Linked DNA regions of Homo sapiens: all the other regions are linked to region 4. The links come from fine-mapping of genetic effects on gene expression. A gene starts in region 4. Each other region holds a variant in brackets. All regions are shown on one strand. Distances are from middle to middle. Region 1 overlaps ATP9A (ATPase phospholipid transporting 9A (putative)). Region 2 overlaps ATP9A (ATPase phospholipid transporting 9A (putative)). Region 3 overlaps ATP9A (ATPase phospholipid transporting 9A (putative)). Region 4 holds the start of ATP9A (ATPase phospholipid transporting 9A (putative)).

The links. PIP is the estimated chance that this variant, and not a neighbour inherited with it, causes the effect.
Region 1: its variant is fine-mapped to the expression of ATP9A in whole blood (TOPMed, PIP 0.96).
Region 2: its variant is fine-mapped to the expression of ATP9A in whole blood (INTERVAL, PIP above 0.99).
Region 3: its variant is fine-mapped to the expression of ATP9A in caudate (GTEx, PIP above 0.99). The same link has a PIP of 0.9 or more in substantia nigra.

What each region holds. Positions count from the first base shown.
Region 1 is chr20:51,639,780-51,647,885 of GRCh38, reverse strand. All of the region lies in intron 14 of ATP9A (ATPase phospholipid transporting 9A (putative)), which reads left to right. Among named protein-coding and RNA genes, the nearest start is that of NFATC2, 100 kb to the right of the region's middle. The variant A/T (reference allele first, on the strand shown) is at 4,378.
Region 2 is chr20:51,592,784-51,600,889 of GRCh38, reverse strand. It overlaps ATP9A (ATPase phospholipid transporting 9A (putative)), which reads left to right. Exons shown (of 28, transcript NM_006045.3): 28 at 1-4,376. Among named protein-coding and RNA genes, the nearest start is that of NFATC2, 54 kb to the right of the region's middle. The variant C/T (reference allele first, on the strand shown) is at 3,484.
Region 3 is chr20:51,727,214-51,735,319 of GRCh38, reverse strand. ATP9A (ATPase phospholipid transporting 9A (putative)) reads left to right here. Exons shown (of 28, transcript NM_006045.3): 2 at 5,342-5,486. It also overlaps the pseudogene RPL29P35. Among named protein-coding and RNA genes, the nearest start is that of ATP9A, 37 kb to the left of the region's middle. The variant T/C (reference allele first, on the strand shown) is at 3,709.
Region 4 is chr20:51,764,872-51,772,977 of GRCh38, reverse strand. ATP9A (ATPase phospholipid transporting 9A (putative)) reads left to right here and starts at 4,588. Exons shown (of 28, transcript NM_006045.3): 1 at 4,588-4,676. The coding sequence starts at 4,609.

The DNA.
Region 1 (8,106 bases), 130 kb after region 4:
TTTTACAGACACTGTAGGAAACTGTCAGATGTGCCTCCCTTGGTGTTAGCTTATCCATGGGCCATAGAGGCAAAAGCTCTGTCCCATGTGATATTAGTGTTGGCTCAGAATAGAGTTAATATATAGTCATTTCTTTTTTTTTTCTTTTTCTTTTTTGAGACAGAGTCTCGCTCTGCTACCCAGGCTGGAGTGCAAAGGTGCAATCTTGGCTCACTGCAACCTCCGCCTCCTGGGTTCCAGCTATTCTCCTGCCTTAGCCTCCTGGGTAGCTGGGACTATAGGCATATGCCACCATGCCTGGCTAATTTTGTATTTTTAGTTTATTTGTTTGTTTTGAGATGAAGTCTTGCTCTGTTGCTCAGGCTGGAGTACAGTGCCACAATCTCAGCTCACTGCAACCTCCGCCTCCCGGGTTTAAGGGATTCTCCTGCCTCAGCCTCCCGAGTAGCTGGGATTACAGGTGTGTGCCACCACGCCTGGCTAATTTTTTTGTATTTTTAGTAGAGACAGGGTTTCACCATGTTGGCTAGGCTGGTCTTGAACTCCTTACCTCAAGTGATCCACCATCCTTGGCCCCACAAAGTGCTGGGATTACAGGCATGAGCCACCGTGCCCGGTCTATAAATAGTCATTTCTTAATGATCACATTTTAGGAAGATGATGCTGTTCTTTCTTCTTAAGTATTTATTTTTATCAGTCAAGTGATAGGAAGTTCAATTTCAAGTACAAGACATTTGGATCAAGAAGTGACTATTATTTATTTATTTGAGATGGAGTCTTGCTCTGTTGCCCAAGCTGGAGTGCAGTGGTGTGATCTCAGCTCACTGCAACTTCCTCCTCCTGGGTTCAAGCAATTCCGCTGCCTCAGCCTCCCGAGTAGCTGGAATTACAGGCACCCACCGGCCCAGTGAATTTTTTGCACTTTTTTTTAGTAGAGATGGGTTTTCACTATGTTGGCCAGGCTGGTCTTGAGGCTCCATACCTCAGGTGATCCGCCCACTTCAGCCTCCCAAGGTGTTGGGATTACAGGCGTGAGCCACTGCGCCTGGCAAGAAGTGACCTTTTATGCCACTGTCTCTTCCGCTGATTCCTAGCAGGCTGTGTTTTGTTTGTTTCATGCTATGTTAAAAAAAAAAATTGAAGCAGTATTTAAAAATCACTTGATTTTATGTCAAAATTAGTTTTTCTCAAGAAAGATCAGGTCTGGAAATAGTAGGCCCAACTTCTACCTGGCAGTGGTTGGCCAAGCTGGGCAGCTGCTGCCTCAGTTTTCTTCTGACCCCCACATGGCCCTGCCCTATGCCTGTCTGCTTCTCTCCCAACGCCTGTCGGCATTTGAACCTGCAACCACTGCCTGGTGCATTTGAATGTATTTTCGTATTGAGTGAAGAAAACCGTGTGTCTGTGGATAGATTTATAATTTTGAAAGGCTGGATTAGGGCTGACCGGTGACTCTTTGTGAGCTTAAGTATTTATCTTATTGAATGCCACCAAATAACCCCTTTTATCAGATGTCACATTCCCGCCTCGTATCATACGTGCTCTGATGATTGGTATGTATCCTGCTTTTGACAAGAATTCAAGGCTACTGAGCGTGATCTGGCTTATTTCCCAAGCACAGCATCCCAGGTACAAAGAGAAAACTTTAAAAACTTGTCACAAGTGGTTTATTGCTGGCCAAGAAATGATGAAAAAGCCCTTTCACGGATGGTTTCTGGCCTGAGTCCCTCACATGGGCATTTGAGGCAGGGAAAGGTGTGGGCTCTGCCCCTTTGGTTTCTTGTCACCCAAAGGAGAAAACACAACAGACTCCTGAGACAGGATCCCCTCCCCGCCCTTTCTACCTTTCCAGCATTTTATCCAGCTCGCGTCTAATGTATCTGTTCATTCATCCACCTTAACGAGGTTGTGTTTTCTGCTGCTGGCCTGACCTGCAGTTATTGAGACCCTAACTCAGGCTGTTAACAGCAGTGAGATGCAAGCCCCTGAAATCCTCTATCTTGTGTGTTACGGGGTGATTTCTTTGAACAGAAGCCAGAATGTTAAGTAACCTTGTTGTATATCACTTTGTTTTGGGAGGGAATGCAGTTATCTCAGCTCACTCCCCAGATGTTTGTCTGGCCCACAATCGAGAGGTGTTAGTGAGTACCCCACTTCTAAACTGGTCCTCCCTGAGTAGGACTCTGGGGGATGTTATGTGTCCTGTTAGAAAGTAGCTTTAAATTAACACTGACTTAAGCTAAAATGGAGGAGAGTGGAAGGGGAGAAGGAAAGACTTCCTGCAGGGCTCAGATCCTGTTGGAATCAGCTCCCAAAGAGACTGAGAACGTTCTTGTTTTTTTTTTGTTTGTTTGTTTTTGTTTGTTTGTTTGTTTGTTTTGAGACGGAGTCTCACTCTGTCGCCCAGGCGCGATCTTGGCTCACTGCAAACTCCACCTCCCGGGTTCACGCCATTCTCCTGCCTCAGCCTCCCGAGTAGCTGGGATTATAGGTGCCTGCCACCACGCTCTGCTAATTTTTGTATCTTTAGTAGAGACAGGGTTTCACCATGTTGGCCAGGCTGGTCTCAAACTCCTGACCTCAGGTGATCTGCCTGCCTTGGCTTCCCAAAGTGCTGGGATTACAGGTGTGAGCCACCTCGCCAGATCCTGCAGAGGTTTTGATTAGGATGGTGGATCCCAGGGGTGGGGAAGGGCTACAGATATAGCTGTCGTAGGCTCCTAAGCTCCACTGAGAGGCTTGCTCTAGAAGAAAGCAAGGCTAAAAGATGTTTACATACAGCTGTAATTGATCTTTCCTCAAAAGCGTTTGTCATTTCTGATCATTTCAGGTTATAGTTATTCAACGTTTCCACTAACATGAACCTGTGGGGTCTGTAGCTGGGCATGCTGGGCTGGCCGATTCTGCTGCCCAGCCCTGGAAGCCACTTCTGGTTCTGGAGTTACAGATTCTTTCTCGATTAAAGTTAAAAGCAGGCTTTTGGGGAATTAGTGTATCTCCTGGAAGCCCAGTATCACAGACTTTTCACATATTTTCAGGGCAATTAACAGGCAAAGTAATAGCTACTTGAGAATAGGAATAAAAAAATCATTTCCATAAGTGTTTGAAAGTACCTGAAGAATAATTTTTTTTTTTACTTTATTACTTAATAGGTATATAAGGAAGGATATAAATTTAGTCAGGGTTTTTTAGCTTGTACATAACTAGGTATTTGTAATATTTGAATTGTATTGGGATGTTTATTTAATTAAAGTTAAACGTAAAAGAAATGCGTATACACGTTTGAAACATTTCGGTGGTATAGAAAGCTAGAAGTGGCCGGGCGCCATGGCCCATGCCTGTAATTCCAGCACTTTGGGAGGCCGAGGTGGGCAGATCATGAGGTCAGGAGATCGAGACCATCCTGACTAACATGGTGAAACCCATCTCTACTAAAAATACAAAAAAAAAAAAAATTAGCCGGGTGTGGTGGCGGGCACCAGCTACTTGGGAGGCTGAGGCAGGAGAATGGCATGAACCCAGGAGGTGGAGTTTGCAGTGAGCCGAGATCGCGCCACTGCACTCCAACCTGGGCAAAAGAGTGAGACTCCGTCTCAAAAAAAAAAAAAAAAAAAAAAAGCTAGAAGTAAAAGCTAGAAGTAATTCTCTCCATGTGTATCACTCTATAAACATTTCTACACTGCACCCAAGCTTTTTTACATAGACAGATGGGATAATTTTTTTTCTTGTTTTTATTTATTTATTTATTTTTGAGGCAGAGTCTTGTTCTGTTGCTCAGGCTGAAGTGCAATGGCGCCATCCCAGCTCACTGCAACCTCTGCCTCTGGGGTTCACGCGATTCTCCTGCCTTAGACTCCCGAGTAGCTGGGATTACAGGCACCCGCCATCATGCCTGGCTAGTTTTTGTATTTTTGTAGAGATGGGGTTTCGCTATGTTGACCTGACTGGTCTTGAACTCCTGACCTCAGGTGATCCTCCTGCCTCGGCCTCCCAAAGTGCTGGGATTACAGACATGAGCTACTGCACCTGGCTGGTATGATTTTATATATGCGAATCATTACTGATTTGTTAATTTTAAACTTTGGAAGACAATTGTTAGCAGACAAAACAGGGCTATATTGAAAGTTAGAGTGTCTTAGTCTGTTTGGCCTGCTATAACATGGCCTGCTATAACAAAATACCATCAACTGGGTATCTTGTAAACAACAGAAGTTATTTCTCCTAGTTCTGGAGGCTGGGAAGTCCTGTGTCAGCATACTGGCAGATTTGGTGTCTGGTGAGGGCCTGTTTCCTGGCTGATAAAAGGCCCTCTTTTCACTCTGTCTCTCGCAGCAGAAGGAGCGAGGGACCTCTCTGGGGTTTCTTTCATAAAGGCAC[A/T]CATCCACTCATGAGGAACCCCACCCCCAGGACTTAATCACCTCCCAGAGGCCCCATCTCCAACTGCTATCATATTGGGGATTAGGTTTCAACATATGAATTTTAGGGGACATAAACATAGTCTATAGCATAGCCATTAAATTAAACAAATAACTAAGTGAATGAGTTTTCAAAGACTTAGGCAGGCCAGTAGCCAAAAACTAAAACTAAAAAAACACAAAATAAAAACAGAAAAACCCACTACTTGATTGGTCCTTTCTTTGAAAGGTAGAGGTCAGTATGACAGTTTCTTCCATTGGTCAAAGCTCAAAGCTCGTTAGTGCTGGCTGACTCATTATGACTTGAACTTAAATAAGGGAGAGTCTTGAAAAATAATTTCTTGCTAATGTAAATTTAGTTAATAGAAGCAACAGAAACTGAACTCGATATCTGAGCATAGTAGACTAAGGATGCATAAAGATACATTTTCAGAGCTGGAGCAGAAATGAGAAATAGTCATCTACTCCAAGATCTTTATTTTGCAGAGGCCTGTGGGGGCTGGGGGCTGGGGACAGAGCGGGGACTGGAACCCCAGTTTTGAGCTCCAGCTTGATCTCTTCTTCGGGGTATAGCAGGTCAGCTAAGATGACATCCAGGGGTTCCAGAGAAAGAAAGGACTAGGGGTGGAGAGCTGCATACCTTTGCCTTGTGGCTTCTGCAGAGCTCTCTTGGTAAAAGGAATGGGAACTCAAGAGGAACGCCAGGTTTTTTTTTTTTTTTTTTTTTTTTTTTTTTTTTTTTTTGGAGACAGAGTCTCACTCAGTCACCCAGGCTAGAGTGCAGTGGCATGGTTTCAGCTTACTGTAGCCTCTGCCTCCCAGGCTGAATCAATCTTCCCATCTCAGCCTCTCCAGTAGCTGGGACTACAGGTGCTCCCCTAGAGCCTCCGCAGCAATGCAGCAATGGTGATCAAGCGACCTTGATCCTGTCTCAGTGAGACCCTCATCCCATGTCCACCCCTGATCTATAGAACTGTAAGAAAATCTATTTGTTTCATTTTAAAACAGATGCTGGCCGGTGCGGTGGCCCATGGCTGTAATCCCAGCACTTTGGGAGGGAGGTTGAAGCAGGTGGATCACTTGAGATCAGGAGTTTGAGACCAATTTGGCCAACATGGTGAAATCCCATCTCTATTAAAATTACAAAAATTAGGCAGATGTGATGGCAGGTGCCTGTAATCCCAGCTACTTGGGAGGCTGATGCAGGAGAATTGCTTGAACCCGGGAGGTGGAGGTTGCAATGAGCCGAGATCGCACCACTGCACTCCAGCCTAGGTGACAGAGTGAGACTCCATCACGAAAACAAAACAAAACAAAACAAACAAAAAAAAACAGATGCACAGTAATTTGGTACAGCAACAACAGGAAAGGAATACAGGAGGGCTTCCAACTTCAATGCCAAACAAGCTGTCACTTTATTCCCATCCAAGTCCAAAGGTACAGTGTCTACAAAAAATCAAGAAAGAAGAAAAGGAAGGCCCTCCCACTTTCCTCTCATAAAGCTTAATCTTTAGGGGGAGTAGGGGAGGCAGGTTTTAGGAGGGTGTTGACAGGGGCTGCAGGTAGGTGATAGGGAGAGGGGTACTTGGGAGGCATCACCTCCACTGGAAGTGTTTTTTATCTTTTTTTTTTTTTTTTTGAGATGGAGTTTCGCTCTTGTTGCCCAAACTGGAGTGCAATGGCGCGACCTCGGCTCACTGCAACCTCTGCCTCCTGGGTTCAAGTGATTCTCCTGCCTCAGCCTCCCTGGTAGCTGGGATTACAGGCGCCTGCCACCACGCCCAGCTTATTTTTTATTTTTTTTATTTTTATTTTTTTAGTAGAGATGGGGTTTCACTATGTTGGCCAGGCTGGTCTCGAACTCCTGACCTCAGGTGATCCACTCACCTCAGCCTCCCAAAGTGCTGAGATTACAGGTGTGAGCCACCGCGCCCGGCTCTATTATTATGTTTTTGAGACAGGGTCTTACTCTGTGTCCAGGTGGGAGTAGTGTGGCACCATTATGGCTCACTGTAGCCTCCACCTCCCAGATCGTGATCCTCCCACCTCAACCTCTTGAGTAACTGAGACGACACACATGCACCACCCCACCCTAATAATAATTTTTTTTTTGAGATACAGTCTCGCTCTGTTGTCCAGGCTGGAGTGGGGTGGTGCGATCTCTACTCACTGCAACTTCTACCTTCCAGGTTTAAGAGATTCGCCTCCCTCAGCCTCCTGAGTAGCTGGGATTACAGGCGCATGCCACCACCTCCGGCTAATTTTTGTATTTTTAGTAGAGACTGGATTTCACCATGTTGACCAGGCTAGTCTCGAACTCCTGACCTCAGGTGATCTGCCTGCCTCAGCCTCCCAAAGTTCTGGGATTACAGACATGAGCCACCACCCTAATAATTAAAAAATTTTTTTTTAGAAATGGGGTCTCCTTGTGTTACCTAGGCTTGTCTCAAACTCCTGGGCTCAAGTGATCCTCCTGCGTCAACCTCCCCAAGTGCTGGGATTAAAAGTGTGAGTCACAGCAGCTGGCCAATTGCTTACATTTAAAAGTTAGGCCGTCTCGGGGAGAAGTCTAAATTTCTGTTTTTTCTTGAGAAACTGGAAGCTCCATCCACCCTGGCCCTAGTCCCTGCAGGGCAGTAACTGCCACCTGTGTGTATAGTGGCAGCAGCCTCCTTTGGCTGGGGCTGGGCTCCTGCTTGCCACAGCCCCCACTCAGCCCTCTTTGCTATTTGTATCAACACTCTGGCCCCTGTCTTGGAGTTTGCAACCCTCATGCCTTTGACCTTAAGCTGAGTATGTCTGGCTGAGGCCATGAGAAGGTTCTGACTTGACACCCGTGCGATGACTCTTGGAAGGGAAGAGTGTGTGCTGTGGAACTTTACACCAGGCGGATCCAGGTGCCAGTCTGGCCTAGCTTTGCCACATGCCAGCGCTGTCACCTTGGGCAACTTCATTAACTGCTCTGAGCCTTGGTTTCCTCTTCTGTGTGGACCCGTGTTCTCCACCTCAGCACTATTGACATTTGGGGCCAGATCAGTCTCTGGTGTGGTATGTCCTGTGTGTTACGGGACGTTTTGTAGCATCCCTGGCCTCTGCCCACTGGATACCAGCATTACCTCCTTCCAGTTGTGACAAGTACAGATTCCCCCAGATGTTGGCGCGGGTCCCCTGGGGGACAGAATCACCCAGTTGAGAACCACTGAAGACACTCCCCCAGTGCAGTGTGTGAGGCTGAAAGGAGAGCCTGAAGGCGAAGGGCTGTGTCAGTCAGCATTCTCTTCCTTCTTTTTTTTATTGTTTAGCTTGTTGCAGATACTTCCAGGAGTGATCCGTAATTGTGCCAATTGCTCCTTTTTTCGGAGTGGGGGTGGTGTGGGGTGGGGACGGGGACAGAGTCTCGCTATGTCACCCAGGCTGGAGTGCAATGGCGTGATCTCAGCTCACTGCATCTCTGCCTCCTGGGTTCAAGCGATTCTCCTGCCTCAGCCTCCTGGGTAGCTGGGATTACAGGTGTCCGCCACCATGCCTGGGTAATTTTTGTATTTTTAGTAAAGACGGGGTTTCACCATATTGGCCAGGCTGGTCTCGAACTCCTGACCTCAGGTGATCCACCCACCTCGGCCTCCCAAAGTGCTGGGATTACAGGCCTGAGCCACTGCACCCAGTCACAATCACTCTTAATTCTGTGCCA
Region 2 (8,106 bases), 170 kb after region 4:
CACATGATAAAAGTTTCTGTGTAGCTGAAGGTTGTAGAAGGCTTGTGTGTGTGTGTGTGTGTGTGTGTGTGTGTGTGTGTGTTTTTAAAGAGTCCTAATGTGTATGTACTCTTTATGTCTTTCTTGCTCTTACAAAGAGGTGTCAGAAAAATAGAAAGCTCTTGGTGTCGGTTTGGGAGGAAAAGACAGTGACATTTGGTAAAAAGTTATCCACACAATAATCTCCATTCGGAAATGCTCAGTATCGTCTCCAGCCAGCCCTGCTTATCCAGGTTACACTGGATTCCTGGGATCGTAACCAGTAAATGAGAGGAGAGGGAGAGAGAGTGTCCTAAGTCCAATCTGTTATCCTTGATCTGATTCAGCATCCATAGTGTGTGAGTTAACTTCACCTGCCACCTCGTAAAAGAATTTCAGAGGTGTGATCCCGCTTTATTGGGACCTGGTAACAATCACAAAGCCAGTGGCTGTTTGAGAAGGACCTCAGACATTTTCAGCAGAGTTGTTTTAGCAGGAAACGTGCCACTGAATGGCCCCTAAATGTGTCGACAGTGTGATAAGAGACTCAACTAATTCTTTAGGCAACATGGCAGATGTGACTCAGATCCTCCAAGACCAAAGCGGAAAGGTCAGGGGGCTGGGACTCTTCTCTTCCATAGAAGCCTGTTTCCTGTTAGGAGGCATAATGGAAGATGACCCCACAAAGGCAGAGGCATCTTTCGGAACAACACTGGTGGCAGCTTTCAGAACAAGGAACCCCTGGTGGGAGGACGCCCAAGCTACAGCGTTGGGATCTGGGATCTGTTCCACTGCCGGCAGATTTCAAGGGGAACTTGCTGAAAGGCAGCCAGTGGTGAAGATTTCTCCCCTCCCAGGATGGACTACATGCCGGCATGTTTCTTATAAAGCTGTGGCTGCTTGTTTCAGAGGAAGGGAGTTTGCAGTCGCGGGACGTGGTAGAGCAAGGCATTCTTGGGTTTTCAAGTTGCTTCTTGCAGAAGCCACATATGCATGCCATAAGGGTTAAGTTGGTGGATCTTTAAGAGCCAAGTGTGGTTGAGATCTTGGATTTGCGTTTACTTCTTGATGAATACATATCCTTCAAACCCTCTGCCTGGCGCTACTTCTGTGTGCTTCAGAGATGTACATCACAGCCTGGTTTCTGATGCCTACTAACTCCTGCTCTTGGAGAGCTGGAGACACGAGGATCAGATAGTCCCTTGCCTTTGGAGCACTCTTGATAAGCTTTTGTATTTTGTGTTGTCCTTTTAAAATGTTCTAGAATGACTTTACGTTGCAGGTACTGGTTAATTGGCTGTTGACACCACATCTATTTTGTCTTATGATTCTGCAGTTTTGCAGTACTTTTCTCTATCTGATTCAGCCATTTCTGCCAGAGGGAAAAGGTCGGCAGAAAAGATGTATTGAGTGAATAGTTAAGGATAGGATCTTTGTCCAAAAATTTCAGAAAGATTGAGCAAATCTGACGTATTCATTGAGTGAGTTTCTGTGTTTTCAAAGGTGGAGGAGAAATTTGTGCTGGAAGTTTTTAAGCCTCCGTTTTCTTGGAAATCAGTCTGTAACACTGGCAAGTCTTAAGATAGTCCCATTTAGACTTTGCAGATGCTGAACCTGGCTCTGTAACGCTGGGAAGTCTTAAGATAGTCCTGTTTAGACTTTGCAAACCCTGTACCTGGCTTTGCTCGGAGATTCGGGATGCTGGCTCCTGCAGGCAGGGCGTGTGGGAGCCTCGTCAGAAAGTTTTAGAGGTTTCCAGCAGAAGCAGAATGAAGATGGTCTCCCTGGCCTTTTCCTTAATTCTCAATTTTGATTGAGGTGCACAAGTTGACTTTTAAAGCCAACGCTTAAGATACTGATTGACATCTTCAAGGGAGAATGCTCCCAGGAGGGGCTGAAGAAGCCATAGTTGGAAGTGGAAGGTACTCGTCAGTGTTCTCCACAAACCTTTTTACTCTGTTGTCTCAGCCGCACTGGGGCGGAGGCGGTCAAGGGTGAGAAGTACCGACACTCAAGTGCAAACTGCCACGTCGTTGGCCCATCCCATCAGTGGGCAGCTGGCTGACGCCATTCACTGGACGGTCCCTGAACACCTAGGAATGCACACACCGTGCTTCTCAGACACTGGAGACGCAAAGGCAGGAGGATGCAGTCCGGTGAGAGGACACGATCTTTACCTGCACAATCAGACTGTAAGCCCAGCAGAGAACCCCAGGGGCGCCTGGGTACTTCTCGGAGGTCATCTTAGTTGTGGTGGGGAAGACAAAGAAATAAGCAAACAAGAAACTAGAGTTACTATACAAGAAACTCTCCTGAGTTTGTAAACCTTAAGCATAAGGATTCAGTTGACCTTTTTCTTGGTTCATCAATCTGGAAAGAACTTACATAAAGCGCCATTGACACTGTCACCTGGGAGCTCCATGGGCCGTAAGTCTTTGACAGCCAATTTAATTTGAGGTCAGAGGGCCTTGAGGTACACAGTCAGCACTGTTTGAACACTTTTCCTGAAAGCAAAACTCACAGCTCCCTGCGCCCTCTGACAACACTAGCTATTTCTGCCAGAGTAAGAACTTCTATTACTATTTTATTATTGTTCATATGTCTTTTGATGATGGTTGTGTGACAGGGGGAAGCAGGATCTATTTGGTTTCTTCCCCTCCCCCCACCCCTTCCTTTTTGTCTCTCTTTTTTTTTCTCTAAGAAAATCACCAGACTAGTTTTTCCATCTTGAGTAATTTCTTATGTGGGACAGTTTTGATCCTCATTTTGAAAGCATGCGTGTGCACATGTGTGTTGCCTGTGGTGCCAGGTGAGACAGGTGGCACTAACTCCAGCTGCTTGGAAGGCATCCCAAGGGCGCATCTTAAAGTTGGAGCAGACCTCCCTTTTCCAGCCCCTGGGGCCATTAGACCACGTGCTGGAACTAGCATTGTAAAATTCCCATCCCAGTTCCACTCCCCTGAAGTGAAACCCTTTTTTTTTTGTGACAGTAAATCTTAAAAATCATTGTCTCTTTATGAACATTTCCTCAGTTTCTTCTCTGCTGAAAATGTAAGCCATGCTACTTTTTAATGTATTTTGAATTTTGTGCTCATTGGAAATTGATATGCTAATGCCTCCCCCACCCCCCGCCAGACTTTTCTTTTTATACTTTGTCTTGTTTTTACTGGGGTAGGCTGGGCATGCGTGCGTGCCTTTAGGGCAGCATTTTAAACCTTTGCCAAAATTGCAAATGGGACATGTACATTCTTCTGCTCCATCCTACTTAAACACCTATCAGCTATTTTTATCTTTAACCTTTTCTGTATGTTTGAAGTGTGTGGGGGGTGTGTGTGTGTGTGAAAGAGCGAGAGAATGATGTCATCTAAAGTTTTTTGAAGAATTATTTGGTTTTCATTGCATTAAAATTCTATCACTCCCAGCTTTGTTTTCATTTAAAAAAATATACAAAGAGCTTTGTAAATA[C/T]AACACATTTTATTTCTCCCCCTTCTTTTAATGTACAGCTTTTTTGCCACTTATATATACTTAAAATATTCCCATGAATTATGTCCAGTTCTTCTTGGAAAAAAATTTGGTTTTGAATGAACCTGCAAAGCATCCTGCAGCGTGAGCAGCTCCTCCACCTGGAGCTCCGAAGCATCTTCTCAGGCCAAAGCGGCATTACCCGTGAATCTGTCTTCTCCGCCACAGCATGGTTTGAGGCGCAGTCTGTTAATATAGCTGGGCCATGTCAGTGACTGTTGTGTTTGTGGGGTCAGGTGGGGGGCATGGTATTTGCAAAAAAAACAAATTATGGCTAATTTATTATTTTGTTGCAGTGGGGTTAACTGTAAACTCATGTAAGAGTCTGTGATTTCCTCATTGGTTGATCTCTCTCTCTGTAATCCTCATTGCAAATTTTCACCAGGACAGCGTTTTTTGATTAGAGGGGAGCTCTGGCACAGTATGCTTTAATTTAGCAGGAACTTCCAGATGATTTAAATTCTCGATGCTGTGATGACACACATATGATCTTTCGTGTTTCTGAGCGACTCTACTTTCATTGTTTGCCAGCGTGGCTCGTTGCTGTTGCCCAATAAAGCTTGTGTACGTTCTGCCTTGGGGGATTATTTTAATTTGTACAGAAACATGAATTCTGGTATCAAAATGAGGACTTTTTATTATAACGCTCCTATTTTTTCTTTATTTCATGGTACATGAAATGTAAAGAAAACTCTTTCCAGTTCAGAAAATTATTTTGATTTTGGCAAAAAAAACCCCAAATCAATGCATGTTATTTATTATTTTGTACTATTGTCCATCCCAGACGTGTCAGAATTTCAAAAGGTGATAGATATAAATGGAAAATAAGATGAAAACCATAAGCTTCATATTGTATTTCTATACACGGTCCTCGATGACTGGAATCTTTTTTTTTTTTTTTTATCGAGGGATGGAACATATAGGAACAGTCAGTTAAGTTTTAGGCAGAAAAAATTTTTAAGGCCCGGCGCAGTGGCTCATGTCTGTAATCCCAGCTTTGGGAGACCAAGGCAGGAGGATTGCTTGAGCCCAGAGTTTGAGACCAGCCTGGGTAACGTGGTGAAACTCATGTACAAAAAATACAAGAAAACGAGCTGGGTGTACTGGCTCAAGCCTGTGGTCCCAGCGACTTGGGAAGCTGAGGCGGAACAATCACCTGAGCCTCGGAGGTCGAGGCTGCAGTGAGTCGTGATTGTGCCACTGCACTCCTGCCTGGGCAACAGAGCAAGACTCCGTCTCAAAACAAAACAAAACAAAAAAAGCTTTTGTGTAGGAAGTAGTTGAAATCAATTGGGTGATTTTTGTCCCTTGGGGGACACGTGGCGGTATGAAGACCTTTTCAGTTGTTACAACTCGGGGAAGAGGAGTGCTACAAGCAAGAGATGCTGCCGAACACCCTGTGATTCACAGGGTGGCCCCCACAACAGAGCCCAAAGTGTCAAAAGTGCCAACATTGAGAAACCCTAATTATTTTTTTTCGAGGTGGAGTCTTGCCCTGTTATCTAGGCTGCAATGCAGTGGTGCAATCTTGGCTCACTGCAACCTCCGCCTCCCAGGTTCAGGCGATTCTCCTGCCTCAGCCTTCTGAGTAGCTGGGCCTGCCACCACGCCCGGTTAAGTTTTGTATCTTTAGTAGAGACGGGGTTTCACCATGTTGGCCAGGCTGGTCTCGAACTCCAGGCCTCAGGTGATCTGCCTGCCTCAGCCTCCCAAAGTGCTGGGATTACAGGCATGAGCCCATACGCCCAGCCAGAGAAACCCTAATTTAATTGGCACGTGTCAGCTGTACCATTTGTCTGTCTGTATTTGTAAAAGGGCCCGGAGGTATAAGCTCGTGTGTCTCAGGAAGCAAGTTATGCCTCCGCCTACTATACCAAATACTATACCAAATGGTGTAATTAGTGGCTGTCTGCAGTGTGAGCTGCTGGTTCCCTCTTTTTGGTTCTCAATGGAAAGGGCCATCCTCAGTATATAGATTAGAAAGATAATTGTAACTTAGTTGTGTTATCTCATGACAGCAGCAAAAGGAAGGTATGTGGTTTCAAAGGTAGGGACCGACCATGCTTTCCCTTAAACGTGTGCTATCCCTGCACGACCTTAAGCCTCTGCATTTGCCTGCAGTGAACTTCCGTCCATGTGCGGACACTCCTCCGCCGGAGCCGCTAGGGGGAACTTGAGGACTGAAAGACATTGCTGTTTCCTGTTTTCCACAACCAGCCGGACCCCACGTGCCCAACTGCCCTGAGTTTCAAGACTGTGCTTTCATAGCTTCAGAATTTATTTCATGGCCAGAGGCTCCGTGAAAAACAGACATTTCTTTTCATGTTGTTGACCAGAATATTTTGCTGGACTTAGTTAAAAAAAAAAAAAAGGAAAAAAAAAAGGCAGGGAGGGTGAGAGATGAATATTTATTTGCTCTTGGATATTTGCATTTTTGAATAATTGGCAAGTAGGAAGCTTTGCCAATTCACTGTTCAGTCTAATAAGGTTTTGAGACGAAATGTACCAACACCCCAAGTACTTTTAGTGTTTTTGTTATGAAACTTTTCAGGGTGACATGAAGCCCTGTGGTATTTGTGAGGAGGTCTATAAATGATGGATTTGCTCACCTCAAAATAGAACTGTAGTCGCTCCAAATTTTCCAGAAGTGGGAGCACAGTGACAGAATTCATTCAGGACTTGCTAATTTCCTACTTTAAATGGGTTACATAACAGAACCGGTCCCGCCTTCGCGCCTCTCAAAACTACCCATGAAGTGATGGTGAAATGTATCATTAAAAGCTAGAAATAGCTCTGCTAAACTCTGGGAAAAAGATGAATTTTTTTCTGATCTCCCTCTCCCCACCCCCCTTTTTTCACCCAAACATTGCATAATGTTAAAAAAGTCAAATCTTTCCGTGGGATTTAATTTCATTTTCCATGTGGCTGTGGTCGGAGGGGTAACTCAAGCACTTTGGGGGCTGGTGGATTTTTGGAGGATCACGCATTCCCGGATCAGTTTGCATCCAAAGCCTTAGCCGAGAAATACACCCAATCCTGGGGTTTCTCCCCATCCCTCCTGCCCCCCTTTTGTGGATGAGTTATCTATAACATAGCATCTTTTCAGAAAGCCTGCCTTCTTGCAGGAATGCCCAAACAAAGCCACCCTCCACTTTCCATGTTGACGTTTTGATTTTGAAATGGATTCCCCCTGAAATTTGGGGTAACTGAGTCACATGTGAAGTCATCGGCCCCACAACCTATGCTTGATACCAAGCCAGGGCTCATTTCTTAGAATTCAGCCAGCAGGTTCTGTTTGCTTACATTAAGAACTTGGTGTTCTAAGCCTGTGGTGTTTGTTTTCAAGAGATTTAAAAGAAATACATTTTTTTTCTTTGATCAGATCAGGTCCAGATAAGCCCAGGACTATTTTTTATTTCCTTTGAGAAAGATTGCAGAGTCCAGAAGGAATGGAAAAAGTGTTGGGGGATGGGTAGGAGATGTGCAGAATATGCTGACATTTTTATTCCTTCATTGATCAAATATTTGCTGAGCACTTCCTATGTGTTAGGCACTGTTCTTGGGGCTGGAGGCGTGGCAGGGAACCAGACAAGCGTAGTGTCTGCCCTCATAGTGATTACACTCTGTGTGTGTGTGTGTGTATGTGTGTGAAAGACAATAAACAGATTAAGACTAACATCAGGTGGAGAGAAAGCTTCCTAAGATAAAGCAGCCTAAGGGTTAGGCAGAGGATGACAACCAGGTAGGAATAAAGGTGGGGAAAGTGCTGGGAGTCAGAGATGGGCCCACTGGAGCAGAGGGCTGCAGGATGAGAAGGAGGGTGCTGTGCACCTCTGGACCCTGTAAGAGCAGAAGCTGGTAGTGATGCCCCCCAACCTATCCATGTGGGTGCCAGCCACACCGTCCCCCTCAATTTTCTCATGCCTTGTGGGGTTTTTTTTTTTAATCTCAAGGAAATTCTGCTTTCTATTCCATTAGTGGATTTAATGTAAAAAAAAAAGTTTTTAATGATTGGCCAATTCTATTCTCCAAGATCCCCAAGTAAATGGATTCTTTTTTTTTTTTTTTTTTTTGAGACAGAGTCTTGCATTGTCACCCAGGCTGGAGTGCAGTGGCACGATCTTGGGTCACTGCAACCTCTGCCTCCCAGGTTCAAGCAATTCTCCTGCTTCAACCTCCCGAGTAGCTGGGATTACAGGCACGTGCCACCACACCTGGCTAATTTTGGTATTTTTAGTAGAGGCGGGGTTTCACCATGTTGGCCAGGCTGGTCTCAAACTCCTGATCTCAAGTGATCTGCCTGCCTTGGCCTCCCGAAGTGTTGGAATTACAGGCATGAGCCACCGTGCCCAGCCAGTCAATGGATTCTTGAGGAGTCCCTTTGCTTTCTCCTTGGGCTGCCCCATGAGGGGTATGTTCTCTAGTCAGGGATGCCCAGGCCAGCCTAGCATACTGGGGGGAGGTTCATTTCTAACTTTGAACAATGGCTAAGGCCACAGGACCCTGGGCAAGTTTGCAAAGGCAGAGCGTCATTCAGAGAGATCTGGGGAAGTGACATTGTGGTTG
Region 3 (8,106 bases), 38 kb after region 4:
ATGTATGTCCTCTTGCTTTCGTGCAAAGAATAGCATCCTACACACACCTTTTAGCCCCTTGCTTTTCGGTTTTGTGTATTTTGCAGATTGGGTCATTTTGTGCACACAGCGCTATTTTATTCTTTTTTTTGTTTGTTTCCCCCTGCCTCAGGCTTATTTGTACAAATAGCACAGGAAGATACCAACCCCATGCAGACGGCAGCCCAGAGGTCATACCAATCCTTCTGTCCTCATGTTTGCAGATGGAGATCTCTACTCTGAAGCCTTTTAGGGGCGTGGGCACTTTTGAGAGCCTGAGCTGGAACTGAAGCTGGAGCTGCAGTCTGGGCCTTGGTTTGATTCTTGGCCTTTGGCCAGCACAGCCTAAGACCCTTAGCAGTGCGGGCATGAGCATGCGTCCCAAGTTTGGAGTGGGCAATGTAGGCAAGTCGATGAATTTTGCTGCCGACACCCTTTGAGATCTTGGGCTTAACCTCTTTGGACTTTACAAGGGTCTTGATAGCCTCGGCGTGTGCACTCAGGGCCTTGGTGGTGTTGGCCTGCATCTTCTTCATGCACTTCTTCTTGTACTTCTTGGCAAAGTGCATGTTCCTCAGGAACTTGGGGTTCACCCACTTAAGAAAGTCATATCTTTGTGACTGGGATTTCTTCCTTTCTTTCTTTCTTTCTTTTTTAAATTTCTTCTTAAAAAAACCAAAATGGGATACACGTGGACTGGGATTTCTTGATGCCATTTCTGTTCCATTTTCGGGCCTGGTTGTGTGTGGTTGTATGTGGACTTGGACATGTCTGCACCGAACCCACAGCTCCCGAAGTGCCTGGAACCGGAAGAGGACCTTATGCTTTAGAGGGGGTTAGGAATTTCATTTATGGCTTATCCCTGTTTATTTAACCAGTCTTCCTTTGATGAACGGTGTTATGGTCTGAATGTATCCCTTCTCCCTAAATCTGATAGTTGTATGAAGTTGGGCACTGAGGAGGTGATTGGGTCATGAAGGCAGAATCCTCATGAATTCCCTTATAAAAGAGGCAGGAGGGGCTGAGTGGGGTGGCTCACACCTGTAATCCCAACACTTTGGAAGATGAGGTGGGCAGATCACTTGAGCCCAGGAATTTGAGACCAGCCTGGGCTGCATGGTGAAACCCCATCTCTACAAAAAAAAAATTACAAAAATTAGCCAGGTGTGATTGTGCTTGCCTATAGTCCCAGCTACTTGGGAGGCTGAGAGGTGGGAGGATTGGTTGAGCTTGGAAGGTTGAGGCTGCAACAAGCTGAGATCATGCCACTACACTCCATCCTGGGCGACAGAGTGAGACCCCATCTTAAGAAAAGAAAAAGGCATGAGGGGCCAGGCATGGTGGCACAACTTGTAACCCCACCACTTTGGGAGGCAAAGGTGGGAGGATGGCTTGAGGCCAGGTGTTTGAGACCACCCTGGACACCATAGTGAGACCCTCACTCTACAAAATATTAAAAAATTAGCCAGGCATGGTGGCACATGCCTTTAGTCCCATATACTTGGGAGGCTAAGGTAAGAGGATTGCTTCAGCCCAGGAGTTTGAGGCTGCAGTGAGCTGTGATTGTACCACTGTACACCAGCCTGGGTAATACAGATTTTTTAATTTAAAAAAAAATTAAAAAAAAAAGGCCAGGTACAGTGGCTCACGCCTGTAATCCCAGCACTTTGGGAGGCCAAGGCAGGCGGATCACGAGGTCAGGAGTTCAAGACCAGTCTGACCAACATGGTGAAACCCCGTCTCTACTTAAAAATACAAAAATTAGCTGGGTGTGGTGGCGCACGCCTGTAATCCCAGCTACTCAGGAGGCTAAGGCAGGAGAATGGCTTGAACCCAGTAGGTGGAGGTTGCAGTGAGTGGAGATCGTGCCACTGCTCTCTAGCCTGGGCAACAGAATTAGACTCTGTCTGGAAAAAAAAAAAGGCATGAGGAATGGGCCTCACCAGATACTGAATCTATTGGTGTCTCCATCTTGGACTTTGCAGCCTCCAGAACTATGAGCAATACATTTCCTTGTTTGTAAATTACATAGTCTAAGGTATTTTGTTATAGTAGCGGGAAGGGACTGAAACAAATGGTTAGATTTGTTTCCAATCTCTTGCTCCCATAGTGCAGTGAGTGACCTGTACTTTGTGCATATGCACAAAGGTGATAGGCTAAGTAATTAATAAATAGCATAACTGTAACCGGATAGCTTGATGTCTGGAAACTTCTGCTAAAACAAAACAGAACAAAAATTTTGTATAAACAGTCAACCTGACAGTTTGTGATTCTCTTAAATTCATTTTTCATCTTTCATTAGAACTGTACAACTATGAAGACAGTCATTACTAGATTATTATAGGATAGGGAGAGAATTACTGGCTCTTAGAGGAGTCAGTCTTCACCATCCAGTAAGGTTTCTGCAAATACGGTGATGCGCTTTCTGTCAAATGAATCTTCCTTCGCTCCTCTCCTCCTTCCCCTTTTTCTCCCATCCTTTTCCTCTCCCCCTCCCTCTTTGCTTCCTCCATTCATTCAAAATGTATTCAGTGAGTGTCCACTGATGGCCAGCATGGGTGATTTGCACTTGGAAACAGGAGTGGCGAGAGTGGTTGGACTCCTTGAGGCTTCTGTGTGTGTCTCTGGCTTTTGGACAACTTAGAAAGGGGCCAACAAGAATGAGTTACTAGAAGTGAAACCTTAGCAGAGCCACACTCCACCATGAATGCTGGTTTACTGGAATGAGGATGCTATTTTTAAGAAAGAGCATTGTGTTTCATCATGGAAATTTTGAGCATCTGAGCAGGCAGCCTGCTGGCTCGCTCATCTTTAAGGTCCTGATGGACAGAGGCTGTGTTTTCTTAGCTCTGTACCCCAGCACCCACCAGGACCTGCTCTGTGGGAACAAGGGAAGAAGGAAGGTCTGTGGTGGACGAGTAATATGTGAGTTGTTGGTTTCACCTTAGCTGGCGACATCCCAGGGGGCTGGCAGGGCTGGGACCTTGCCTCAGCCTTTGAGTGCTGGGGCGGTGAGGTGAGCGGTCCAGCGAGGGACGTTTTTGTTGCAGTTTTTCGGGAGCTTGTACTTCTCAGAGTGCCTTGTTTAATAAAGCTCTCCTGAAGGACAAGCTGCCGTTTTTGGGGTCCTCAGAGCACCTCGTTTTGCCAGAGCAGCCCAGATTCCTAGGTGTTCCTTTGCCTCGTGGGAGGGTGACCTGGGAGTGGGGGTGCTGATGTTGGCACCAATGAGCTGTCCTCTTGGGAAAACCACGTTGGGGGCGCCCTTGGGGTCGTTCTGCCGACAGCTGGTGTGCTGGCTTCTCTCCAGGTTATATCGAGCTCTGAGACATCATCTTTGTGGCTTGCTCCTCTAATGTGTTGCTGAAAAGGAAAGCTGGGGGTGGAGAGGAGATTCCCCCGCTCCCCCTTTTCCTTTATATAGCAATCTTGGTGGAACTAGCAGCTGTGACAGCATGGGGTGGGGAAAAGACACTAGGCTTTGGAATAAGGCTGACACAGTTCAAGGCCAGACCCAGCTGTTTCTTACGTCTCTGCAAACTTGGGTGCTTTAGCTGTTCCAAGCTTCTCTTTTTTTTTTTTGGAGATGGAGTCTCCCTCTGTCACCCAGGCTGGAGTGCAGTGGCATGATCTTGGCTCACTGCAACCTCCGCCTCCCGAGTTCAAGCTATTCTCCTGCCTCAGCCTCCC[T/C]GGTAGCTGGGATTATAGGCGTCTGCCACCACACCCAGCTAATTTTTGTAATTCTAGTAGAGATGGGGTTTCACCATGTTGGCCAGGCTGGTCTTGAACTCCTGACCTCAGGTACCTCCGCCTGCCTCGGCCTCCCAAAGTGCTGGGATTACAGGCGTGAGCCACCTCGCCTGGCCCAAGCTTCTCTCTTATCTGTGAAGCATAGATGTAATAATAGTACTTACTGTGATATATTTATTTTCTTAAATCCTTTTATTCTAAAATAAAGCCTACCTTTAAAAAATTATTATTATTTTTATTTATTTATTTATTTGAGACGGAGTCTCGCTCTGTTGCCCAGGCTGGAGTGCAGTGGCAATAGCTCACTGCAACCTCCGCCTACTGGGTTCAAGCGATTCTCCTGCCTCAGCCTCCCGAGTAGCTGGGATTATAGGCGCCTGCCACCATGCCTGGCTAATTTTTGTATCTTCAGCAGAGACGGGGTTTCACCATCTTGGTCAGGCTGATCTCGAACTCCTGACCTCATGATCCGCCTGCCTCGGCCTCCCAAAGTGCTGGGATTACAGGCATGAGCCACCGTGCCTGGCTAAAAAATTTAATTTTTAATAGAGATGAGAGTCTCACTTTGTTGCCCAGGCTGGTGTCAATCTCCTGGCCCCAAATGATCTTCTTGCTTTGGCCTCCCAAAGTGTTGGGATTATAGGCATAAACCACCATGGCTGGCCGAATCTTACTTTTTGGAACACAGTCTTTTGCCACATAATGACATATCAACCAACCACAGACCACATATATAACAGTGGCCCCATTAGATTAGAATACTGTATTTTTACTGTATTTTTTCTATATGTAGATATGTTTAGAGACACAAGTACTTACCATTGTGCTACCACTGCCTGTCTTATTCAGTACAGTCTCATGCTGTGCAGGTTTGTAGCTGAGGAATAATAGGCTGTACCATTCAGCCTAGTGCATAGCAGGTGATGGCAGCCAGGTTGTGTAAGTCACTCTAGAATGTTCCCACAGTGCCGAAATGGCCTAATGCGTTTCTTAGAGCGTATCCTTGTCGCTTAACAATGCAAGACTGTAAATAATTTGGGATTGGGGACAAAGCATCTTTTTATTTATTTATTTACTTATTTTTTGAGACGAAGTCTCAGTCTTTCGCCAGGCTGGAGTGCAGTGGTGCGATCTTGGCTCACTGCGACCTCCGCCTCTTGGTTTCAAGCGATTATCCTCCCTCAGCCTCCTGAGTAGCTGGGATTACAGGCACGTGCCAACACGCCCGGCTAATTTTTGTATTTTTTAGTACAGACGAGATTTCACCATGTCAGCCAGGATGGTCTCGATCTCTTGACCTTGTGGTCTGCCCACCTCGGCCTCCCAAAGTGCTGGGATTACAGGTGTGAGCCACCGCGCCTGGCCAGGACAAAGCATCTTTTATTTGGACCACAGCTTCGTGGGAGCTTCTGCTCTGTTTTCTTGTTTCACTGAAAGATGAAGCCTCAAATATGGCTGTGGTCCTGAGCCAGAGAAGATGCTGTAGAGAAAAGCAATCTGCGAAGAGTGGGCAGACATGAGCACAGCCTCGATGCGTGGGCGTGGCCTTGATGCGTGGGTTTCTTTCCCACAGGTGCTGCGAGTGGCTGAGATGCTGCGGTGGAGGGGAGGCCAGGCCCCGCACTGTCTGGCTGGGGCACCCCGAGAAGAGAGACCAGAGGTATCCTCGGAATGTCATCAACAATCAGAAGTACAATTTCTTCACCTTTCTTCCTGGGGTACGTGCAGGCAGGGACCGTGCTCTTTTCTTTTTTCCATCACAAATACATGCATTGGTACAGATGTTATGTCATGTCATGTTATTTTTTAGACAGAGTCTTACTCTGTCGCCCAGGCTGGAGTGCAGTGGCGCAATCTTGGCTCACTGCAACCTCCGCCTCCTGAGTTCAAGCGATTCTCCTGCCTCATCCTCCTGAGTAGCTGGGATTATAGGCATGTGCCACCACGCGTGGCTAATTTTTGTATTTTTAGTAGAGATGGGGTTTCACCATGTTGGCCAGGCCGGTCTTGAACTCCTGACATCAGGTGATCCACCCACTTCAGCCTCTCAAAGTGCTGGGATTACAGATGTGAGCCACCTTGCCCGCCGGTACAGTCTTAAAAGACTGAGTTCCCTGTGGCAGATGTCAGTGACTTTTCTGTGCCACCTTAGTCCCTGGTTGTTCATCTTCCCTGGGTTCAGCACTGGGTAGTGGCGGGGTTGGAGGTGGGGTGGGGTGGAGGGGGCACCTGCCTTCTCTCTGCAAGGCTGTGACCCCACCTGCTCAGTTAGAGTAACTTCACATGTATTTGGTGTGCTAAGCCTAAGAATGAAAAAGACATTCTGGGGACCTAGCATTATGACCAAAACAGCAGAAAAGAATGTCAGCAGTGCTTAAATTTCCCCCCATCATGACACATGTAGTCAATATTGGCAAGTTGGGAGATAATAGCTTAGAGGAGAAAAAATAAAGATGCATTTTAATCTTACCATCTATAGAGAGAATTTTCATTAGTATTTTTGCTAATAATAAATGTTTCTGGTGGCATAACACTTCCACATTAACTTACACAAATCTGTGGACATGTACTCAGCAAACCTTCTCCCCAACATGCACATAAATTAAATATCTATTTTTATCCAGCACTGCCTCCAAACACACACCAGTTGACTTTGAGAAGCAGCAGTAGCAATCAGCTCCAATGCAGAAAGGAACATAATGGTAGTGTTAGATATTGAGTGATAGTGCAGAGGCACAAATCTATTATATAGTCGAGTTCAAGGTCAATTGGAATTTGTTTTTTAAGAGACCAGATCTCACTGTCTTGCCTGGGCTGGAGTGCAGTGGCATGATCAGAGCTTATTGCAGCCTCAGACTCCTGGGCTCAAGCCATGCTCCTCTCTCAGCCTCCCAAACAGAAATTTGAATTTTTTTTTTTTTTTTTGAGATGGAGTCTCGCTCTGTCGCCCAGGCTGGAGCACAGTGAGCCATCTTGGCTCACTGCAACCTCCGCCTCCTGGGTTCAAGCAATTCTCCTGCCTCAGCCTCCCAAGTAGCTAGGATCACAGGCACCCGCCACCACGCCCGGCTAATTTTTTGTATTTTTAGTAGAGACGGAGTTTCACCATGTTGGCCAGGCTGGTCTCGAACTCCTGACCTCAGGTGATCCACCCACCTTGGCCTCCCAAAGTGCTGGGATTATAGGCACGAGCCAGCGCTCCCAGCCGTGAATGTTTTTAAGGGTGATTTTGACTATATTCATTGCTGGTTTCCTCAACTCCCCCCAACTCTCAGTACCTCAAGTGAGGAATAGGTTTATTCTCATTCATGGAAAGTCTGATGCAGACTGGGCCACACTCCTCCATTTCCTGGGTATGGCACCTGGACTATGTGGCCACCAAAGTCACCAGAGTGGCTCAAGAGGCACCAATGGTTCTTAGCTGCCTTAGCCTCAACGAGACACAGTACGTCCATTCATTACCTATTGGCCCAAACTAGTCATGTGGTCTCAGTCTGACTCTCGGGTGCATGCCAATGGTCAGAACCACACTAGCACCTAGCTGCTCCCCAGGGGAGGATTTGACTGTGTTATTTTATGGAGTTGAGGTCATGTTGTGGACATAGCTTTTTTTTTTTTTTTGAGACTGAGTCTCCCTCTGTTGCCCAGGCTGGTGCACAATGGCGTGATCTCGGCTCACTGCAACCTCCACCTCCCGGGTTTAAGTGATTCTCCTGCCTCAGCCTCCTGAGTAGCTGGGATTACAGGCACGTGCTCCCATGTCCGGCTACTTTTTTTATTTTTTAGTAGAGACAGGGTTTCATCATGTTGGCCAGGCTGGTCTTGAACTCCTGACCTCGTGATTCATCCGCCTCGGCTTCCCAAATTGCTGGGATTACAGGCGTGAGCCACTGTGTGCGGCCATTTAACTTTTTAAAAATTATTTTTTATTTTATTTTTTGAGATGGGGTTTCACTTTTTATTTTTTGAGGTGGGGGACTCATTGTCACCCAGGCGAGAGTGCAGTGACATGATCTTGGCTCACTACTATCTCCGCCTCCTGGGCTCAATTGATCCTCCCACTTCAGCCTCCTGAGTAGCTGGGACTACGGGTGCATGCCACCACTCTTGGCTAATATTTGTATTTTTTGTAGTGATGGGGTTTTACCATGTTGCCATGGCTGGTCTCGAACTCTTGAGCTCAAGCCATTTGCCAACCTCGCCCTCCCAAAGTGCTGGGATTACAGGCATGTACCACCACGTCTGGACATGCTGTGGACGTAACTTTTTTTTTTTTTGAGATGGAGTTTTGCTCTGTCACCCAGGCTGGAGTGTAGTGGCGCGATCTCAGCTCACTGC
Region 4 (8,106 bases):
CTCCATCTCCAAACAAACAAACAAACAAACAAATAAATAATAAAGCAGGAGTGGGCTTGGAGGTCTATGAACATAAGGCTTCATGGTGGGCCAAGATGAGAGTTTCAAGGTATATTCCGGCTCCAGCCTGTCATCCATCGGGCATGGATGGCATGTGACATAGAGGCATGTGACATGACCTCTTTGGGCCACAGTCTCTCTGATTTCTGGAAAGTAGAAGTTGGACTAGATTGGCTTATCCCTCCAGGACCTTTCCACTCCACATACCTAGGAGTCAGGGGTGCACTGTACCCAGGACCTATTGGATGGAGAGGATTGTCAAGGGGCTTTTCCTGAGGAAGCAGAACCATGAGGTGACTATTCCTGGGCAGAAGGTAGTGCTGTGTCAGGAAGAGGGGTTGCTGTATACCCAGAAGGGGGCCTCAGATTAACCTCTCACATCTCATCACTTCCCCCAGCCTTGCCCCTCTCCTAGACCCTGGCACCGCTCTGGTGATCCCTTGGGTGTCTCGCTTGTCCCAAGCAGGCATCTGATTCTCTCTCAAGATGAGATTTAAGCCTGCAGGTGCGTCCCTTCCTGAGGGATTACCTTGCTGAAAAGGAGTTTCGGCCTGGTGCAGTGGCTCACACCTGTAATCCCAGGACACTAGGAGGTCAAGGCAGGAGGATGGCTTGAGCCCAGGAGGTCAAGGCCAGCCTGGGCAACATAGTGAGACCTTGTCTCTATAAAAAATAAAATAAATTAGCCTGGCATGCAGTGCACACCTGTAGTCCCAGCTACAATAGAGCAAGACTCTGTCTCTTAAAATAAAAACGGCCATGCGCAGTGGCTCATGCCTGTAATCCCAGTACTTAGGGAGGCGAGGCAGGTGGATCACCTGAGGTCAGGAGTTTGAGACCAGCCTGGCTAACATGGTGAAACCTCTTCTCTACTAAAAATATAAAAATTAGCCGGTCATGTTGGTGTGTGCCTGTAGCCCCAGCTACTCAGGAGGCTGAGGCGGGAGAATCGCTTGAACCTGGGAGGCGGAGGTTGCAGTGAGCTGAGATCATGCCACTGCAATCCAGCCTGGGCAGCAGAGTGAGACTCTGTCTCAAAAAATAATAAGAATAAAAACAAAAAGGAGTTTTTTTAAATGTATTTTCTCCTCTGATTATGAAAGCGTACTAAAGAAAATTTGGAAAGTAAAGGCCGGTTGCAGTGGCTCACGCCTGTAATCCCAGCACTTTGGGAGGCCGAGGCAGGTGGATCAGGAGGTCAGGAGATCGAGACCATCCTGGCTAACATGGTGAAACCCTGTCTTTGCTAAAAATACAAAAATTAGCTGGGCATGGTGATGGGCGCCTGTAGTCCCAGCTACTGGGGAGGCTGAGGCAGGAAAATGGCGTGAACCCGGGAGGCGGAGCCTGCAGTGAGCTGAGATTGTGCCACTGCACTCCAGCCTGGGCGACAGAGTGAGACTCCATCTCAAAAATAAAAATAAATAAATAAAGAAAGAAAATTTGGAAAGTAAAAAGGCAAAAACAAAACAAAACAAAACAAAAAACCACCTACAATTTCCCCCTCTCTTTCCATATGAGAGTGTTAGTACCTTTGAGGGTTAATAGTGGGCTCTTTCATCTTTTAAAAACTTATTTAAAGAAAAAATTATTGCAAAAGCAACACGTTTTGCTAGAGAAAAAGTAGAGAGTATTGACAAAACAAAAGCAATGAAATATTTAAGATCCACCTGGATGTACCGCAAAATGTTAATAAGGGAAACTGTCCCCATGACTGGGGACATGGATATAGGATGGGGACATATGAAACTCTCTGTGCTAATTGCTTATGTTTTCTATAAATGGAAAACTACTAAAACAAAAAATCCTGCTAATTAAATTGTATTTTAAAAACCCACCTGGAATCTTTCAGGGATGAGCATTGATAATGCTGTTGTGTTCATTCTTGAATTAGGGAAAACTATGAATATTCATATCATAGAAGTAGGACTTTTAATAGCTAACCTTTTCTTTCTTTTTTTTTTTTTTTTGAAACAGAGTCTCGCACTGTTGCCTGGGCTAGAGTGCAATGGCATGATCTCGGCTCACTGCAACCTCCGCCTCCCGGGTTCAAGCAATTCTCCTGCCTTAACCTCCTGAGTAGCTGAGATTACCAGTGCCTGCCACCATGCGTGGCTAAGTTTTTGTATTTTTAGTAGAGACAGGATTTCACTATGTTGGCCAGGCTGGTCTCGAACTCCTGACCCGTGATCTGCCCGCATTGGCCTCCCAAAGTGCTGGGATTACAGGCGTGAGCCACTGCGCCCGGCCGTGCCCGGGTGATTTTAATATATTTTTGTATTTTTGTTTTTTAGTAGAGATGGGGTTTCACCATGTTGGCCAGGCTGATCTCGAATGCCTGACCTCAAGTGATCCGCCCACCTCGGCCTCCCAAAGTGTCAGGATTAGAGGTGTGAGCCACCGCGCCCGGCCTCCTTGGTCTTCTCTTGTACCCTGTGTAGTAGTGGGGTTGAGAAGAGGGTGTGGAGTTTGAAAGGGGGATGTCTAGCAAAGCAGATGGGAGATGGTGGGACCCACACTGATGCCATAATTGGTGTGTCAGGGTGTTTATCCTTCTTCCATGCAAGAAGCCTTTATTGAGTGCCAACTTGTGCCATGCTATGTACGAAGCATCATTTTAGATGTAGAAGAGACAGCAGGAAGCAAAGCACACCAGGCCTGTTGGCTGGAGAATGCTATTTCCTCTCCAAATGTGCAATGCAGCAATTACTAATGACATGCTTCTTTTCTTGAGGAACTTCTCTGGTGCATGAGATAAGTCACACTTCTTGGTTTGAGATCCACCTCAGACACTGGGATATTTGGTGGCTCCATCCTGTGTGACAGCAAACACAAAAGGCATCCACTTGCTGGCAGTTAGCACTAACTTAAAAAAACAAACAAATAAAACAAAATAAAAGGGCCAAGCGCAGTGGCCCGTGGGAGCAGGGAAAGGCTTCTGGTGAGAGTTGGAAAGGTGGACTGGGCCGGATGCTCTTCCTTCATCCCAATTAAATCTCTATGGCATTTAGCAAATGCCAAGGAAGAGCCCAGCACTTTGGGAGGCCGAGGTGGACAGATCACATGAGGCCAGGAGTTCAAGACCAGTCTGGCCAACATGGTGAAACCCCATCTCTACTAAAACTACAAAAATTAGCCAGGCACATGTATAACCCCAGCTACCCGGGTAGCTGAGGCAGGAGAATTGCTTCAACCTGGGAGGCAGAGATTGCAGTGAGCTGAGATTTTGCCACTGCACTCCAGCCTGGGCGACAGAGGGAGATTCTGTTTCAAAAAGAAAAAAAAGAAACGGCGTCCAACATGATCAGTCATTAGATGTAACTATGTAAAAGTCAGCTTTAGATTAGTTTATATGGTATTATTACAATTTCAGGCTCTTTAGTTACATATTGATTTTTAAACTCCCTCACTTTGTTCCTTCCCTCTGTTTTTTTTTTCCTGCTCTCATAACTTTATCAGGCCTTTGAAAAGTTCATGGGTCCCAGACACTGTGTGGGAGGGTGTGGAAGTGAGTGTGGATGTGGGCTGCGGTGGAGATAGGTGTGTGTGTGAGACCGTGAATCACAGTGACAGGTAATGCAGGGTGACTGTCTGAGGCCTGAGAGTGGGGCCCATGTGCAAGCCCAAGAAAGTGGCTGGTGTGAGAATGAGGGTGTTCAGACTATTGAAGGGTGTTTGGATGAAAGAGGCAGGTGCGTGTGTGTCATGGTGAGTTCCCAGAATCCAGATAGAGAATGAGGGTGAGGATGGTGAAGGTCAGAGGGTGAAGGAGTCTGATAAGCTGAGGGTCCCTGTGTGACTGTGATTTCTGCAGGCACATGGGTGTGAGGCTTGAGAAACTGGGTGCATGGATGATGGTGACCAACAGGAGGGTGAGAGTGTTATGTGTGTGTGCAGGACTCACATGTGATTGTGAATGTTAGATGTTGCAGGCAGTGAGCAGTGGCAGGTGTGTGTGTAGGGCCTGGGCGTGAATATGCACGTTGGTGCAAGAGTGAGTGAGAATGACTGACTGATGGGGTGAGCGTGGCCGGGTGCCCGTGTGATTGTGCATGTCAGATATTGGTGGGGATGAGTGTCACAGCGCGCGTGTATAGGGCTGGGATGTGATTGTGAATGTGGGATTTTGCGGGGGGTGCGGTGGCAGGGTGCGCGCACGGCGGGCGTGGGCGGGGGGCGCGTGGCCGGGTGGGCGCGCGTGGGGGGCGCGGGCGCGGGCCGGGGGCGGGGACACTGCAGCGGTCGCGGCGGCGCGGACACGGCCCGGCCGCCCCCCGTGGCAGGCGCGGCGCGGCGCGGAGCGAGCGGGCGCAGCGCGGAGCTCGGGCCCATGGTGCGCCCGTGTCCGTCGGTCGGGCCGCGCGGGCGCTCCGCGCGTGGCCCGGCGCTCGCGAGCTCGCCCCCTCGCTGCGGGCCCGGCCCGCCCGCTGCCGCCGCCTCCTCCCCCGGGGCGGCGCGGCGCCGGCGGGCGGCGGCGCGGAGGCCGGACCGGGCGGCGGCCCAGGCGGCGCGGGGGGCGCGGCGGCCAAGGCGGGCGGCGCCGCCGACATGACGGACAACATCCCGCTGCAGCCGGTGCGCCAGAAGAAGCGGATGGACAGCAGGCCCCGCGCCGGGTGAGTGGGCCTGGGCCCGTGTTTTCCTTTGTCCGCGCCTCCCGGAGCCCGGCGCTCGGGCCAGCCTGGCCGGGCCTGACAGGTTGGCCGCGCGCCGCGCCCGGCGCCATGAGCCTGGGGCAGGGCTGGGGAGGCGGGGAGGTGGGGAGGGGGTCCCTGCGCTTCAGCCCCGGGCGGCACCTAGCCTGATGCCGGCCCTTTGGGGTTCGAGCGCCCGGTTGCCTGGGCCTCCTTGCCCACCTTCCTTTAGAAACCCCGAGAAGCCGGGCCCGCCCCAGTGCTGTTTACACACTCGCGGAATTCGGATCAGCCGTGCTTTCTCACCGTTTTATTGTTCCGTAATTAATATCTGTCCGTAATTAATATCTGAGGTAACAATTTGGTCAGTGTCACACCGAGCTCTGCGCTTGGAGCATTACTCGGGAGCCCAGATATGCTCAGCTTTTAGGGGGGCGCGGCCTACGCCTCGGGGTACCCCATCAGCGCCCCTGGGTCCCAGCCCCAGGAGGCTGCGCCGAGACCACCTGCGCTCCGGTGGCCCCTTCCCCCTCCGCCCGGGGTGGACCCGAACCAGCAGTCGCAGGAGGGTGGGAGGGTCTCCTACTGGCCGCTTGGTGACACTACCCCTTGTGTTCTCCCCCCACAATTTCGGGGAAGGAATCCCACGGCTGGGACAGGGGCTGCCACCTGCTGTGCCCTTCCCGCAGTAGGAGACCCCGAGGGCAGCTTAGGCGCGGAACAGGCAAGGGTTTTTCTGCATTTGGGAAGAGGGGACGGGTTGGTATTTTGCGCCTCGCCGTCTTCCTGTTCGGAGGATGGCAGCGTGACGCGTTGAGGTTTGCGGGGCTCTCGTATCGCCTGCCATAGACTTACCTGGGCGTGAGGGGCGGGGGTGGGAAGGACGGGGGTGGGCGCTGGTGCAAATGCAGATTTCCCGGCCCCCGCCTAGACCCGCCAATCAGAGTTCTGGGGGGCGGGGCCTGGAGATGTGCAGCTCCACAGGCCGCGCAGGTGAGGCTGGAGCCCGCGGGAGGCTGAGCGCGGTGTTGGGCGGGGCCTGCGGCCGCTCTGCTCCGCCCTTCCTCGGGCGTCTGGTCCTCTCTGGGCATTTCCCGGTGGCGGCCGCTTATTGCAGCGTCAGTTGCTCGGAACAGGAGACGCGGCGGGTGGAGTGAACCATAAGGGTGGCTTCACCAGGTGTCAGTGGAATTAAAAAAAAAAAAAAAAAGAATGGTGCTGGCGGCCATTTTGTGGGGTCTTTGTCCCTGGCTTCCTGAATCCTCCGAAGAAGAGGCCTCACTGATATTACCCAGAGGAGGAAACTGGAGGTTACGGAGGTTAAGGGCTATAGGGAAGACTGCAAAATGGAGATTGAACTCCGGATTGTCTGACCCAAAGATAGTTCCCTCACTCCTCCCTTCTCTGTTTTGCGTTTATTATTATTAGTATTATTATTATTATTGAGACGGAGTCTCCCTCTGTTGCCCACGCTGGAGTGCTGTGGCGAGATCTCGGCTCACTGCAACCTCCGCCTCCCGGGTTCAAGCAATTCTCTGCCTCAACCTCCCGAGTAGCTGGGATTACAGGCGCCCGACACCACGCCTGACTAGTTTTTGTATTTTTAGTAGAGACGGGGGTTTCACCATCTTGGCCAGGCTTGTCTTGAACTCCTGACCTCGTGATCCACCCACCTCGGCCTTCCAAAGTGCTGGGATTACAGGCGTGAGTCACCGCGCCCGGCCTCCTTCGTTTTAATGATGACAATTGACTTGAACACTATGCCTGGAACAGTGCCTGGTACATCGTACATCCTCCGTAAATACTGTGATGAATTAATATGATCAGTGGAGTCTAAAATCCAGTGGTTATTAATTTGTGCCATGAGCAATTATGAGACGCCTACTATGTGCAGGAGCCACTCCAGCTGATGGGGATGCAAGGATGAATTAAAGAAGACCTGCCCAACAGGTGTGGGTGTCCTGACCCTGGCTGTTCATTGCAATCACCAGGGAAACTTAACTAGCCTTTTCTGATTCATTCTAGACCTTTGAAATAAGAATTTAGGGTGGGACCTGGGTTTCTATCTATATATTTTAATAAGCTCCCCTGATGATTTTAACATGCAGTCAGAGTTGAGAACTTTTGAGTCAGTACATGAAAGAAAAATGCAAATATTGTTCAAAAGTGATCATTAGCGTGATAGAAACATGAGCCGTTCATATGGAGAGCCAGAGGGAGTGGTGCAGATAATTTTATTTAAAAGTAAGTTTTCTAGGTTGCGTTGGAATGGAGCATCACAGCCCCTTTAGAATTTACCAGCTTTGGAACTAATCTTTCTTTTTTTTTGAGACGATGTAGTTTCACTCTTGTTGCCTGGAGTGCAATGCCTTGGTCTTGGCCCACTGCAACCTCTGCCTCCTGGGTTCAAGCGATTCTTCTGCCTCAGCTTCCCAAGTAGCTGGGATTACAGGTGCCCACTACCACTCCCGGCTAATCTTTGTATTTTTAGTAGAGAGAGTTGTTTCACCATGTTGGCCAGGCTGGTCTTGAACTCCTGACCTCAGGTGATCCACCTGCCTTGGCCTCCGAAAGTGCTGGGATTACAGACGTGAGCCACCGTGCTTGGCCTGGAACTAATCTAATTCTGTTTTTTTTTTTTGAGATGTAGCTTCACTCTTGTTGCCAAGGCTGGCACGATCTCGGCTCACTGCAACGTCCGCATTCCAGGTTCAAGCGATTCTCCTTGAATCAGCCTCCTGAGTAGCTGGGATTACAGGCATGCACCATGCCCGGCAAATTTTGTATTTTTAGTACAGATGGGGTTTCTCCATGTTGGTCAGGCTGGTCTCGAACTCCTTACCTCAGGTGATCCACCCACCTTGGCCTCCCAAAGTGCTGTGATTACAGATGTGAGCCACTGTGTCTGGCCAATCTATTTCTTAAACAGTGACATGGATTTGGATTCAAATTGTGTATCAGGGTTGCTGTGCATTTGCGTAAATGCTCTTGTATATAATCTGCATTTTCAGGAGTAGCAACATCAAGGTGGAATCCTGAAGTTTAGAAACTCTTGAGAAGCACAGAGAGATGGAGGAGCTTCCTGAAATAGAACTAGGGGCTGGGGGATGGCAGCGTGAGGGCTAAAGTGGGTGGGTGGTTAAAGGAAGAAAAAAGTAATATGTAATGGGTCAGGCTGTCTGCTGGACACTTGAGATAAATAGGGCTGTTTTAATCCTTACAACAACCATGTGAGTTTTTGGAGTTAATTCTCCCATTTTAGGGGCCAGATGTGGTGGTTCAAGCCTGTAATCCCAGCACTTTGGGAGGCCAAGGTGGGCGGATCACTCGAGGTCAGGAGTTCGAGACCAGCCTGGCCAACATGGTGAAACCCTGTCTCTACTAAAAATACAAAAATTAGCCGGGTGTGGTG